2 separate regions of the Homo sapiens genome follow, and region 2 is linked to region 1. The links come from fine-mapping of genetic effects on gene expression. Tissue or cell type: macrophages after interferon gamma. Region 1 holds a variant in brackets; the other region holds the start of a gene. All regions are shown on one strand. Distances are between the middles of the regions.

Region 1 (7,920 bases):
AAACAATACAAATGTCTGATAAGTAGATAAATAAATGTGACATATCCATACAGTGGAAAATTATTTGGCAATAGAAGGGATGTACATGCTATAACATGGATTCACTTATTATTATATTAACTGAAAACAGCCAATTACAAAAGATTACATAGTATATCTCATTTACCGATGTCCAGAATAGGGAAATGTATAGGGACAGAAAGTAGATTAGTGTTTGCCTAGGATTTGGGAGGAGTCAGGAGGGGAACCAAGGTAGTAGAGGAAAGGGGAATGAATGACTGCTAATGGGTATGGGATTTCTTTTTGGGGTGATGAAAATGTTCTAAAATTAGACTATGGTGATGTTATTCACTCTGTCAATGTAATAAAAACCACTGTACACGTTAAGTGGGTAAAATCTATGGTATGTGAATTCTATCTCAATAGATCTGTCTTAAAAATGCTCTTAATTGAATAACCTCCATTTGATGCAATGCAATATTTTTAAATGGGCTCAACCACTTCTGGAAATAAATTAATGAATATAAAGCAAACGAAAACTAAAAAAATTACAAACCATGTATTATACTGGCGTTTTCAGTTTATCTTAAGATAACTAGAAGCAAGTGCACTGTTATACCCTATTTTATTTCAAACAGTATGAAGAGTGCCATTCAGCAAAACTATTAAGAATACATGAAATTGTATAACAAAATGACACCTGAGTAGGCCGACAGTTCTGGATTATTTCCTGCCATTTTCCATGTATCCTGGCGACCAAGTCTTTCACCTTAAAAATATCAAAAACAGGAAAAGGGATCAGATTAAAACATTCTCACCTACAATCAGCTTAACACTACACAAAATATCTGACAGCTGCAACAGGCCCACACTCAACAACTCAATTTGATTTCTGTCAACAAAGAGAAAATAAACTACTCATCTTTTGAAGGAGATTTCAAATCATAGAAATTAATAAGACTCCCTTTATCATCATAATCTAAACTATTGAATGCTTATGATTTAATTTTCCTGTTATTGAAGATCATCCCCAAAAACACATTCTCTGCCTTCAAAGGAACTTAACTTTAACTCGCTGGCTTTTGAACAACCAGATAGAGAAGCTGAAGGGTGGTCTGTGTCAACAGGGCCCAAGGCTTTGGCTGTTCTGTGCCTTCCCTTCCCAGCTTCCCTTTGAAAGGATCAAAGCCATAAAAAAAACGTTTATTTGTCCCTCTCCACATTATTAGAAGATCCAAAATTCACTGTTACTCCTCTCCATGCTTGTGCCCAAGTACTACGAATCCCCTTTAAATACCTCGTATTTTCCTACATTTGGAGGTTTAGCAAGTGTCTGTGCACAACTGAAACTGTAACACAAAACCCAAACTCTATCACTCTAGAGATTCTCAATTAGCTATTGAACATAACTGCTTGAGAAACATGTTTTCAACAAGTCAGGAATTTTATAGCAGCTTTAAATTTATAAAGTAAACTACAATCTATGCTTTTTTCTTCATCTACAGTTCAAATTTCTCCAAAACAATCACCAACTTTTCTATAATAGAGGCTTTTGGAGAGGCAGGCAACTCATCTATTTCAGCAGGACCATCCCTTGAAGCAATTTCCACAGACCACTGTGTCGCTTTCCACTTTAAGTAAGAGAAGCACTGGCAACAATCTGTGCCAAGCCCTTGTCTTTAAGAAACATAAAACTTGGGTGGTCCCCTTTTAGCATGGCTGTCAGTAGTAGCCACTACCAAGTTCTACAGGCCAGCAATTCTGGTCAATGAATGCTCAAAAGAATGTGCTTCTGAAACTAGAGTTCTACTCTTGGGGAAAGAGCTATCCCCTACATGTATTTGAAAATCAGAAATCTGATAACTTCATTAGTTGCTTATTTTTGTATTTAACTTAAATTTACTAAAATAAATACATATGTTAAATCTGAATGGGCATTGTTCAAATGACTAACCTTTGCAGCTAATTAATGTAAGATATTAAGTTACAAAGCTGAGGCTTCACATTCAATGACTATCCAAAGACAAGAGGCAAAAAGAATCAGCATTGTATTACATTATCAAAGCTAAAAGATAATCTTGGAATAAAAAAATCTTTAGAAAAAAGTATGTTTATTTTATTTTGTTTTATTTATTATTATTATTTTTTGAGACAGAGTCTTGCTCTGTCGCCCAGGCTGGAGTGCAGTGTCGAGATCTCAGCTCACTGCAAGCTCTGCCTCCTGGGTTCAAGGGATTCTCCTTCCTCAGCCTCCTGAGTAGCTGAGACTACAGGCACGCACCACCACACCTGGCTCATTTTTGTATTTAGAAAAAAGTATTTTAAAAGTGTCTGATTTTATGTTTCAGGAAAAACTGTCAAATCATTCTATTAATACTAACATTATTTTCCTACTCCATACTCATATATTTGGCTTTTCTACTGTCTTTGAGTATATAAAACCTTTAAGAAAAAAAGCTTAGCAAGCTTAGTGCTGAAATCATTTCCACCCTAGAGCTCAGACTAGGTGTTGTACGACCCAAAGATTTGAAGACTCCTGGCTGGGTGTGGTGGCTCACACCTCTAATCCCAGCTCTTTGGGATGCCGAGGCAGGCAGATCACGAGGTCAGGAGTTCGAGACTAGCCTGGACAACACAGTGAAACCCCGTCTCTACTAAAAATACAAAAAAAAAAAAAAATTTGCCGGGCATGGTAGCGGGCGCCTGTAATCCCAGTTACTTGGGAGGGTGAGGCAGGAGAATCGCTTGAACCTGGAAGGCGGGGGTTGCAGTGAGTCGAATTTGTGCCACTGCACTCCAGCCTAGGCAACAAGAGTGAAACTCCATCTCAAAAAAAAAAAAAAAAAAAAAAAAAAAAAAAAAAAAATTGAAGACTCCTTCCTTTAACATATTCTTCAATGAAACATTCAAAGAATAACAGCTAATCTATTTGTACTCTATGAATAAAACAAGTTTTCAACCATCATAAAATTTCAAAGCCACTGTTTCATAACTTACGTATTTATTTAAATAATGCTTCAATCCTTGATGGTAACTTAAGCATGAAGGTTTTAATTTGTGTAATGGGGAAAAATATGTATCATTAGTACTAGAAGTATTTTTCTCCTTGGGTGTCAGGAGTTTCAGAACAGAAAGTAAAGTGAAAAGTGTATTTGCTTTGAGATTTTTTTTCCTTTCACTTTTAATTTAGCTACACTAATTTAGCAGGAGCTGATTTCTGTTATTAAAAGAGAAAGTCCTATTTCTAATCTTACATGTTTCTTTTTGTTTTCGAGACAGAGTCCTACTCTATCTCCCAGGCTGGAGTGCCATGTGTGTTCATAGCTCACTGCAACCTCAAACTCCTAGGCTCCAGTGATCCTCCTGCCTCAGCCTCCCAAGTAGCCAGAACTACAGGTGCATGACACCATGCCTGGCTATTTTTCAAAAATTTTTGTAGAGATGGAGTCTTGCTATGTTGCCCAGGCTGGTCTTGAACTCCTGGCTTCAAGCAATCCTCCTGTCTCAGCCTCCCAAAGTATTGGGATTACAGGCATGAGCCACCATGCCTAGCCTTATATGTTCTTTTTCTGAATATAGGCCTGTATGCTTCTATCCTTAAATATTAACGTAACCAAGATTAAGAAAAAAAAAAAGAAAAAAAGAAAGAACACACTTACCTTAGTTCTGTAAAAAAGTCTTGCATCTTCCCTAATATCACATTTAACATGCTTTTCCAAAGCCCCACAGAGTAGCACAAAGTGTTTCTGTGCAAAACAAATGCAAGGGATGAAAACAATTCTGAAGCATTACAAATTAACAAAGAAATTATGCAGCTAGAACAACTAAATCATTTAAAAATCTATTATTCCTGTTAGCAATGACTGATATTAACTATTCAACGTAACAGTAGTTGTATCAGTGAAAGCTGCTTCCATGACAATAAGATTACTAGTTTAAAAAATACACACTGTAACAAAAGTTGTTTTGCTATGCATTAACTCGCATTAATGAAAATTAACCCCAGAGCTCTAACTGGGTAATATAGTACTCAGAAATTTAAAGAGTCCTTCCTTTAACATACTCGCTAACAAAATATTCAGACAACGGCTAGCCTTTTAAAAAAAAA[A/G]AAAGAAAAAAATTTTTTAAAGAAATGGGGTCTGGCTCTGGTGCCAGGCTGGAGTGCAGTGGCACAATTATAGCTCACTGCACCCTTGAACTCCCCAGCTCAAGTGCTCCTCCAGTCTCAGCCTCCTGATTAGCTAGGATTACAGGCATGCACCACCGTGCCCAGTTCTTTTTTTTTTTTTTTGAGACAGAGTCTTGCTCTGTCACCCAGGTTGAAGTGCAGTGGTGCGATCTCAGCTCACTACAACCTCTGGCTCCCAGGTTCAGGCGATTCTCTGCCTCAGCCTCTTGAGTAGCTGGGATTACAAGTGTGCACCACCATGCCCAGCTAATTTTTATATTTTTAGTAGAGACAGGTTTTGCCACGTTGGCCAGGCTAGTCTCAAACTCCTAACCTCAGGTGATCCACCTGCCTCAGCCTCCCAAAGTGCTGGGATTACAGGTGTGAGCCACCGCGCCCAGCCAATATTTTTTTAATTTTTAAATTTTTTTTGTGGAGACAGGGTCTCACTTTGTTGCCAAGGCTAGTGTCAAATGCATGGCTTCAAGTGATCCTCCCACTTCAGACTCCCAATGTGTTGAGATACAAGCATGAGCCACTGCGACTCGCTAGCACAACACTGGCCCATTTGATATTTGGTGATGTTGGTATCTTATGAATGTATTATACTGCTGCCAAGGTATAATGGTTAAATTCCACTCCAACAAACAGAGCTAACATTTGTTGACAAATAATGTTTTCAATATGACATGATTACAAGACCACTATCATGCCCCTCTTTCTGGTATATATGGGAATTCTTATAGCAAAATCAGTTTGTGACTTTTTTTTTTTTTAAGAGATAGGGTCAGCCGGGCGAGGTAGCTCACACCTGTAATTCCAACACTTTGGGAGGCCGAGGCGGGCAGATCACAAGGTCAGGAGATCAAGACCATCCTCACTAACATGGTGAAAACCCGTCTCTACTAAAAATACAAAAAAATTAGCCGGGCGTGGTGGCGGGTACCTGTAGTCCCAGCTACTCGGGAGGCTGGGGCAGGAGAATGGCGTGTACCCGGGAGGCAGAGCTTTCAGTGAGCCGAGACTGTGCCACTGCACTCCAGCCTGGGTGACAGAGTGAGACTTCATCTCAAAAAAAAAAAAAAAAGAGAGTCTTGCCTTGTTATCCAGGCTGGAGTGCAATGGTGGGATCATAGCTCACTGCACCTTTGAACTCATAGGCTCAAGTAATCTTCACATCTCAGTCAGTCTTCTGGGTAGCTGGGACTACAGGTACGTGCCACCACACTTAGCTAGTTTTTGTTTTTTTGTAGAGACAGCATCTTGCTATGTTGCCTAAGCTGGTTTTAAACTCCTAGGCTCAAGCAATCCTCCTGTCTCTGCTTCCCCAAGTGTTGGATTACAGGCATGAGCCACCACACCTGGCCTATTTTTTTTTCTATAGGAACAAGATAACCTTTCATTAATAGAGGTTCATACTTAATTCTTTGAAAAATTATGCATCTTAAATTTTAGAAATGTATAGACCTAAGCAGTTCTCTCACATATACTTGGTGAGAACGTAAATGAACACTTTCTGGGATGAAAATGTGATAATAGCGATTTAAAATAATTAAAATTTGAAATATTTATAAACTTTGATCTAACAATTCTACTTCTAGGAATTTACCTTATAGCTATGCTTGCAGAAGTGGGCAAAGATATATGAATAAGCATGTTCATATTAACACTATGTGCAATCACAAAAAACATACTGTTTATCAATAAAGGTTTCAAAATACTATAGTTATTAGATAGAAGTACAAATATTTGATTTTTTATATATTTTTTTGAGACAAGGTCTCACTCTGTCACCCAGGCTGGAGGGCAGTGGCATGACCACAGTGCATGGCAGCCTCAACCTCCTCAGGCTCAGGTGTTCCTCCTGCCTCAGCCTCCCAAGTAGTTGGGACTACAGGCATGCATCACCATGCCCGGTTAATTTTTTTTTTTTTTGTAAAGATGGCATGCTGCTCTGTTGCCTAGGCTGGACTTGAACTCCTGGGCTCAAGCGATCTGCATGCCTCGGCCTACCAAAGTGCTAGTATTACAGTTGTGAGCCACTGCGCCCAGCCAAGTGCTAATGTCTTAAAGAGGAGGCCGGGCACAGTGGCTCACGCCTGTAATACCAGCACTTTGGGAGGCTGAGGCGGGTGGATCACTTGAGGTCAGGAGTTCGAGACCAGCCTGGCCAACATGATGAAACCCCGTCTCTACCAAAAATACAAAAATTGGCCAGCATCATGGCACATGCCTCTAGTCCCAGCTACTCGGGAGGCTGAGGCAGGAGAATCACTTGAACCCAAGAGACGGAGGTTGCAGTGAGCTGAGATCGTGCCACTGCACTTCAGCCTGGGTGACAGAGCAAGACTGTCTCAAAAAGAAAAAAAAATTTTTTTTTAAAGAGGAAAAAAAGGAAGTTGCAAATGATACTATGATTACATTTTTGTTAAAATAATTGTTAGTATATTATATGTAATATATTAGTAAATTGTGAAGAAATTTACAGGAGGGCACTGGATTGTAGGAGTCTTTCAGGTTTTACTTTATATAAGTTTTACAATAATCACTAAATTTTTTTTTTTTTTAAACAGAGATGGCATTGCCCAGGCTGCTCTTGAACTCCTGGGCTCAAGTGATCCTCCTGACTCAGCCTCCCAAAGTGCTGGGATTACAGGCATGAGCCACCATGCCCAGTCACTGACTTTTTTAATCATAAAAAGTAATTTATAGCCGGCATGGTGGATCAGGCCTGTAATCCCAGCACTTTGGGAGGCCGAGGTGGGCGGATCACAAGGTCAGGAGTTCGAGAGCAACATGATCAACATGGTGAAACCCCATCTCTACTAAAAATACAAAAATTAGCTGGGTGTGGATGTGGTGGCAGGCGCCTGTGATCCCAGCTACTTGGGAGGCTGAGGCAGGAGAATCGCTTGAACCTGGGAGGCAGAGGTTGCAGTGAGCCAAGATTGTGCTAGTGCACTCTAGCCTGGGTGACAGAGCAAGACTCCGTCTCGAAAAAAAAAATGTATAAAATATAAAAACCATGTAAGAACATTACAGATGACTATATTAGCTTCTAATCAGAAGAGCAAACACTTTTTGTTTTTGAGACAGAATTTTGCTCCTGTTGCCCAGGCTGGTGTGCAATGGCGTGATCTCAGCTCACTGCAACCTTCGCCTCCTGGGTTCAAGCAATTCTCCTGCCTCAGGCTCCCCAGTAGCTGGGATTACAGGTGCCCACCATCACGCCCGGCTAATTTTTGTATTTTTAGTAGAGACAGGGTTTCACCATGTTGGTCAGGCTGGTCTCGAACTCCTGATCTCAGGTGATCCACCCGCCTCAGCCTCCCAAAGTGCTGGGATTACATGTGTGAGCCACTGTGCCCAACCGCAAACACAGTTTTATATACAACAGCATTTATAAAAACATAAGAATTAGTCTTGTGTCTTTTCTATCATGTCTAGGAGATACTATGTATTTTTTTCTTTTTTTTTTTTTTGAGGTGGAGTCTCCCTCTGTTGCCCAGGCTGGAGTATAGTGGTGTGATCTCAGCTCACTGCAACCTCCACCTCCTGGGTTCAGGCAGTTCTCCTGCTTCAGCCTCCAGAGTAGCTGGGATTACAGGTGTCTGCCACCATGCCCAGCTAATTTTTTTTTTGTATTTTTAGTAGAGACAGGGTTTCATCATGTTGGCCAGGCTGGTCTCGAACTTCTGACCTCAAGTGATCCGCCCGCCTTGGCCTCCCAAAGTGCTGGGATTACAGGCATG
Region 2 (6,460 bases), 630 kb after region 1:
GGACTCATCTTGGAAATTGAGCTGTAAAACACCAGGATAGAGGATAGTCTTGGTTGCCAAATCTGTTCCCCCACCAGGGCAGTGTTGTATACTTCCAAAACTTTCTAGGTCTCCTCCAAATGACTCAAGGGATGGGAATTTCACCACCTCTCATGGGAGGTTGTTTTATAGCCTCTTACATCTTACCCATGATGAAAGTTCTGATGAAACATTTTTTTCCCCTTTGGTTCATTCATTACCCTTAGATAATCCCCTAAAGAGCACCTTCACAATCCCTCTCCTTCTTTGGGGCTTATGCCTTCAACTATCTGCACATGGCTGTCAGGACCCCATCCCACACACATGCATCTGCACATGGCTGTCAGGACCCCATCCCACACACATGCACCTGCACTCCTTAGCTCTTCAGCCAGGCCTACCCACATACAGTTCTTTTCATCTTTCCTCATACATCAAAACCTCAAGTGAATTGGAAGCGGGATTATGGCTCTCTTCTCAAGATTTTCTCACGTCAGCTGCATCCCTTCTCCTCAACCACATGCCAGGTTTGTGTATGCCAATAGCCATTCACCAATGGAAATGAGGTTTTTCTGGAATGCTGTGTTCTATAGTTAAAAAAAAAAAAGATTCCTCCTACCCATAGCTTATATCTAGGTTGGATCAATATTTATACAAACTATAATAAGGAGGAAAAATCTAAAAGAAGTCTGGGACTACCTTAAATCTCCAACCCCCCAAGAAACATTTAAACTACAAATAAAAATCTCAAAATAATATATTTCCCTTAAACATAGGCTATGAATTAATAAAATAAATTCAATCACCTTTTGGTAAAGGAAGCATGAAAAGATTGACTACTCATTTCTTTATGGATGAAAAATTAGCATGGATGAGTGCCCCAAATGAAAAAGAACCCTTCCTTTTCTTCTTATTTTGTCATTTCCTTCCCACTGACTTGGTCAGAAGCCACCTCCTTTTGTTCTTCAACCACTCTGAATAGCTGGTAGTTTCCATGGTCTCTGAAGGGATTCACGCACACCACAGTTCTCGGCGGCAATAGGGACCACCAGAGGTCCTCACCCTCGTTATGCAACCTCAGGCCTTCCCCCTCCTCTGTTTTCTCCCAACTGCACTAAGGGCCAGTCTTCTACAACCCTAGGGGCATCACAGACATCTTCAGAGCCCCAAGACCCCACCTATCATTCCTATGCTTAGAAGGAACCTCTTCTTTTCCAAACCTTCCCATCCAAACCTGATGGGGCTCTTCCTTCCCAAACCTCGCCCATCCATCAAGATCTAGCTTCTGTTTCATTTCCTCCAGAGGAAGCTTCCTTTTCCCCTAAACTTCATAATGTTTAGTGTCTATACCATTAAAATAGGCTACCTCACATTATTCATGCCTCCATTTGCTGCTGCTGCTTTTTTTTTTTTTTTTTTTTGAAACAAGCTCTTTCTCTGTCACCAAGGCTGGAGTGCAATGGCATGAACACGGCTCACTGCAGCCCTGACCTCCCGGGCTCAAGCAATCCTCCTGCCTCAGCCTCCTGTGTATTTGGGATCACAGACATGCATTACCATGCCCAGCTAATTTTTTGATTTTTTTGTAGAGACAGGGTCTCACTTTGTTGCCCAGGCTGGTCTTGAACTCCTAGTCTCAAGCTCGGCCTCCCAAAGTGCTGATGTTAGCCACTGTGCCTGGCCCATTTGCTCCATTTTTTAAAGTTTTATTTTATTTTTAATTGATAAATAATAATTCTATATACTTATGAGGTACAATGTGACATTTTGATACATGTATACATTGTGGAGTGATCAAATCAGGTGAATTAGCATATTCATTACTTCAAATATTTATCATTTCTTTGTAGTAAGAACTTTTTAAATCCTCTCTGTTAGCTATTTTGAAGTACACAGTACCTCATTATCAACTGTAGTCACCACACTGTGCAACAGAACAACAGAACATATTTCTCTTGCCTGATTGAAAGCTTTTATCCATCGACCACTCTCTTCCCCTCTCACACACCCCTCACCCCCAGCCTCTGGTAACCACCATTCTACTCTCTACTTCTACGAGTTCAATTTTTTTAGTTTCCACATATAAGTGAGAGCATAGGGCATCTGTCTCATTATGCCTGGCTTATTTCACTTAACATAATGTTCTCTAGGTTTATCTATGTTGTCGTAAATGACAGAATTTTCTGTGTTTTTTTTTTCAAGGCTGAATATATTATATTGTGCATATATACCACATCTTTTAAATCCTTTCGTCAGTTGATGGATACTTAGATTGTTTCCATATCTTGGCTATTATTAATAATCCTGCAATGAACATGGGAGAGGAGACATCTATTCAACACACTGATTTCAATTCCTTTGAGATTCTTGGAACATATGGTAATTCTATTTTTAGTTTTTTGAGGAACCTCCATACTGTTTTCCAAGATGTCCGTACTAATTTACAATACAGCCAAGCATACAAGGGGCCCCTTTTCTCCACAGCCTTGCCAACACTTGTTATCTTTCTTTCTTTCTTTTTTCTTGAGACAGGGTCTTGCTCTGTTGCTCAGGCTGGAGTGCAGTGGTGTGATTTCAGCTGACTGCAGCCTCAACGCCTCAGCCTCCCCAGCTCAAGTGGTTCTCCCACCCCAGCCACCTGAGTAGCAGCTGGGACTACATGCACGCACCCCATGCCTGGCTAATTTTTGTTGTTTTGTTGTTGTTTTGTAGAGGCGGTGTTTCACCATGTTGCCCGGGCTGGTCTTGAACTCCTGAGCTCAAGTGATCCTCCTGCCCTGGCCTCCCAAAGTGCTGGAATTACAGGTGTGGGCAACCACACCCAGCCAAGATCTCTTTATAGGGACACTCAAGACTGATTATTTTGACAAGGCTGATGTTTTGCTGAATGTGAAGGTGGGCTTCAGGCCAGTGAGTAGCCCTGGGTGGGGAGCCAGGAGTTAGGAGAGGAAAGTCTCTGCTCTAGCCTCAAGGAGGAGAAACTGCAGGGTGACCACCACAACCTGTGGGATCAGCCCCATTCTGGGGCATCATGCATGCCTATAGGGGAGCTGGAGCAGGTGATCAGAAGCTGGAGCAGGGCATAGGCAGGGATGTGCTTGGGGGCCCATGACACAGTTTTAATTCAGAGACCTGCAGTTATAAAGAAAGCAGATTAATCCTGATATCATGGATAGTTCCACTTTGTGCTCAAGTTTACGATTCTAGGCCCAGGACTAAGCAGAGCCATGGGAAAAGGTTCCCAGCTCAGCTGGGTCCAGATATCCACTCCCCTTTAGTCCCACATCATACTGTCCTTGTCCTTTGTTCTCCGATCCAGCCTCCCAACCAGGTCTTAGCCTTTTTCCCATACTGAGCCCCACACCCTTAAGGAACCCCCTCTCTTGGTGTATCTCACCTGTAAGCCATGGAAAGGCAAGCTTCAGAACAAGGAATATAGACAACCTAGGACTCTGTGGTCCTCTCCCCTGCCCCCTCAGTGCCCTGAAGTATGTGAGACTGGGGTTCCTCCTGCCACTGTCCTTTCCCCACGGCTGAGAGGGTGAAGTGAGGGAAGGGAGCTGCCCATCTCTGCTCCACCAGGGGACAGCTGAAGGTGAGACAGGACAGGAGCCTCAGACCCATTGACTGAACCTGGGAGGTGGGCAGAGCCTGGGAGGGGGACAGCGCTCTTCAGCTTTCCTCCCAGCCTTGGTCCCCACCCCAATCCATGTCGGCCCTTTTAGGAGCTTTTAGTGGAAATGAGCTCAGACCCGCAGCACAGGCCCCCGGCTCCCCTCCTGTCTCAGCTCCTCCCATTGCTCTTTGATCGTCTCTTCTGTCCGACCTCTGGGCCATCTCTCCACCAGGCACATCTGCGAGCAGCCCCCTTCATCCCCAGCATCGCCTTTTCCTCCCGTTTCTCCTTCCACTCCCAGCTCCACATCCTCCTCCTATTCTCCCCTCTCCCCTCTTCAAACCCCCACCTTCCAGTTCCCTCACCTCCCCTTTCGGCTGGTCCCCTGGGGCTTGCAGCAAGAGGGAGAGAGAGCTCCTGACAGGATTGATGGTCCTTCCCCACCCTGTCCTCTCATCCGCTCCCTCCCCAGCAGGCACAGACATCCCCCTACAAAAGGCAGGAGCCCAGGCTGTGTGGAAACAGCTGCTCTCAGACGCCTTTCCATTTGCTCTCTGCTGGCTAGGCTGGGCTGTGCCTCTGCTCCCTCTTCCTCTAGCTGAGAGTGGGCACCTGGGGTACCGGGCCCCCCCACCTCATTCCCCATGAATGCTGTGGGAAGTCCTGAGGGGCAGGAGCTGCAAAAGCTGGGGAGTGGAGCCTGGGACAACCCCGCCTACAGTGGTCCCCCTTCCCCACACGGGACGCTGAGAGTCTGCACCATCTCCAGCACGGGGCCTCTCCAGCCCCAACCCAAGAAGCCTGAAGATGAACCCCAGGAGACGGCATACAGGACCCAGGTGTCCAGCTGCTGCCTCCATATCTGTCAAGGCATCAGAGGTACCAGATAGGGGGACAGTTCTCCTGGGATATTAGAATCAGGAGGAGTCACCAAAAGCTTTTGGGCAGGGGGTGGGGGTGGAATGTGATCTGAAGAAGAGGTGACCTTTCGGTGTCACTTTGGGGTGTATGAATTGCCCATGGTAGTGCTGCATGACCCAGAACACAGAGGCCAGCTGAGCGGTCTACCGGTTGTGGGAGCCTGGCATGGTCATCACCTGGGGATCCAGAGAGGTATGTGGGAGCTGGTTTGAGGGAGGACATGGATGTGATGATGCCCTAGACTACCCCACCTGGAACAGGTGCCTCCTTTCCATGCCTTCATTCTCTACAAGCCAGGGCCTTCACCCCTGTCGACCTCAGGGAGCTGATGGGAAGAGCAAGCATGGGTGTGGGTACAGTAGCCAGATTCAGCCAAGGATGAAGGTGATGGGCAAGGAAGGGCAGGGGTGGAAAGGGGCTAAAGTCCAGAGACAGATGGGTGGGGATGACTGGGAGGAACACTGCCACTGAGCATCCCAGGCATCTCTCCCATGCCCCTTAGGACTTTGGGGAACAACCCTGACTGAGAACACAGCTGAGAACCGGGAACTTTATATCAAGACCACCCTGAGGGAGCTGTTGGTATATATTGTGTTCCTGGTGGACATCTGTCTACGTGAGTAGCATCTGTGTTTGTGTACATCTGTCTGTGAGAAACATCTATGTGTGCACTATATGTATAAACATTCCTGTGGGCAACATCTGTGGAGCGAGCATCTATCTGTGTAAGCAGGCTATATCCGGGAACTTTAGATAACAATATTCCAATCCCATCTATTTACCTTTGCAGCTTAAGATATTTTGTTTAAAAGGAATTTGTCAGTAGAGGAAGGCAGTTTGGTCAAGAATTACAAGGGGAAACCAGTTTTTGGCAGCCATTGTTTTCTATTGGCTGAAAAGGTGAAAGGTGAAAATATTTTACCCTTCTGTAGAGAGTGGGCTGGCACGGTGGCTCACGCCTGTAATCCCAGCACTTTGGGAGGCCGAAGTGGGCACATCACCTGAGGTCAGGAGTTTTGAGACCAGCTTGGCCAACATGGCGAAACCCTGTCTCTACTAAAAATACAAAAATTAGCTGGGTGGCAGGTGCCTGTAATCCCAGCTACTCAGGAGGCTGAGGCAGGAGAATCGCTTAAACCCAGGAGCAGAGGTTGCAGTGAGCCAAGATCGTGCCACTACACTCCAGCCTGGGGGACAGAGCAAGACTCTGTCTCTCTGTCTCCAAAAAAAAAAAAGAGTGGAAAACCACTCCCTTCTGTTTGGAAAGATAGTTTGGTGGGCTTCACGTAGTTATTATACTATATCCGATGCATGTTTCTTTAGAGGCAGAGAAAAAGATGGAAGAAAAAAGAGAGGAAGTAAAAGATCCAGGCGACCTTAGATCTCAGATCCCTGTTAAGAGAGGGAGGGAAACACATGGTATGGTGATGGTCCCATGTGAGAGACCACCATGTCACATGCCATTGGAGGAAGCTTATTGAGGCTCTAGCTATAGACACAAACTGAGAAATTTTGATCTCTAAGTTGAGAGAAGCAAGTGAAAAGATAGGAGGGCGACTGTGGGAAGATAGAGTCAAAGAACCGTAAATAATAATAAAATTGGACCAAACAGATGCTATTAGACTTGTAGGTAATGACAGCAACTTTGTATTTGGTTTATTACTTCTTTCAAAAGTTGCACAAGTGATGTTTGCCTAGTTTAATATAGTTGTGTGTGGGGTTGTGTTTTGATTAAAGCTGTAGGTTGAATCGTACAACTAAGATGCCCTCATTAGTAGGTGTTCTAGGCTCCGCAATACTCTGTTCTTGTCAGGGTGCATAAATCTTTTGAAAGTGGAGTCAAAGAGTCTCATAACATTAATGTTGATGAAATGTTGTCTTATTTTTTGAGCCACCCACATTTGT

Evidence for each region. PIP is the estimated chance that this variant, and not a neighbour inherited with it, causes the effect.
Region 2: it holds the start of PKD2L1, and the variant in region 1 is fine-mapped to the expression of PKD2L1 in macrophages after interferon gamma (Alasoo 2018, PIP 0.95).

The regions. Positions count from the first base shown.
Region 1 is chr10:100,952,277-100,960,196 of GRCh38, reverse strand. It overlaps SLF2 (SMC5/6 complex localization factor 2), which reads right to left. Exons shown (of 20, transcript NM_018121.4): 18 at 3,660-3,746; 19 at 701-769. Among named protein-coding and RNA genes, the nearest start is that of SEMA4G, 13 kb to the left of the region's middle. The variant A/G (reference allele first, on the strand shown) is at 4,109.
Region 2 is chr10:100,327,922-100,334,381 of GRCh38, reverse strand. It overlaps PKD2L1 (polycystin 2 like 1, transient receptor potential cation channel), which reads left to right and starts at 4,154. Exons shown (of 16, transcript NM_016112.3): 1 at 4,154-4,513; 2 at 5,058-5,171. The coding sequence starts at 4,279.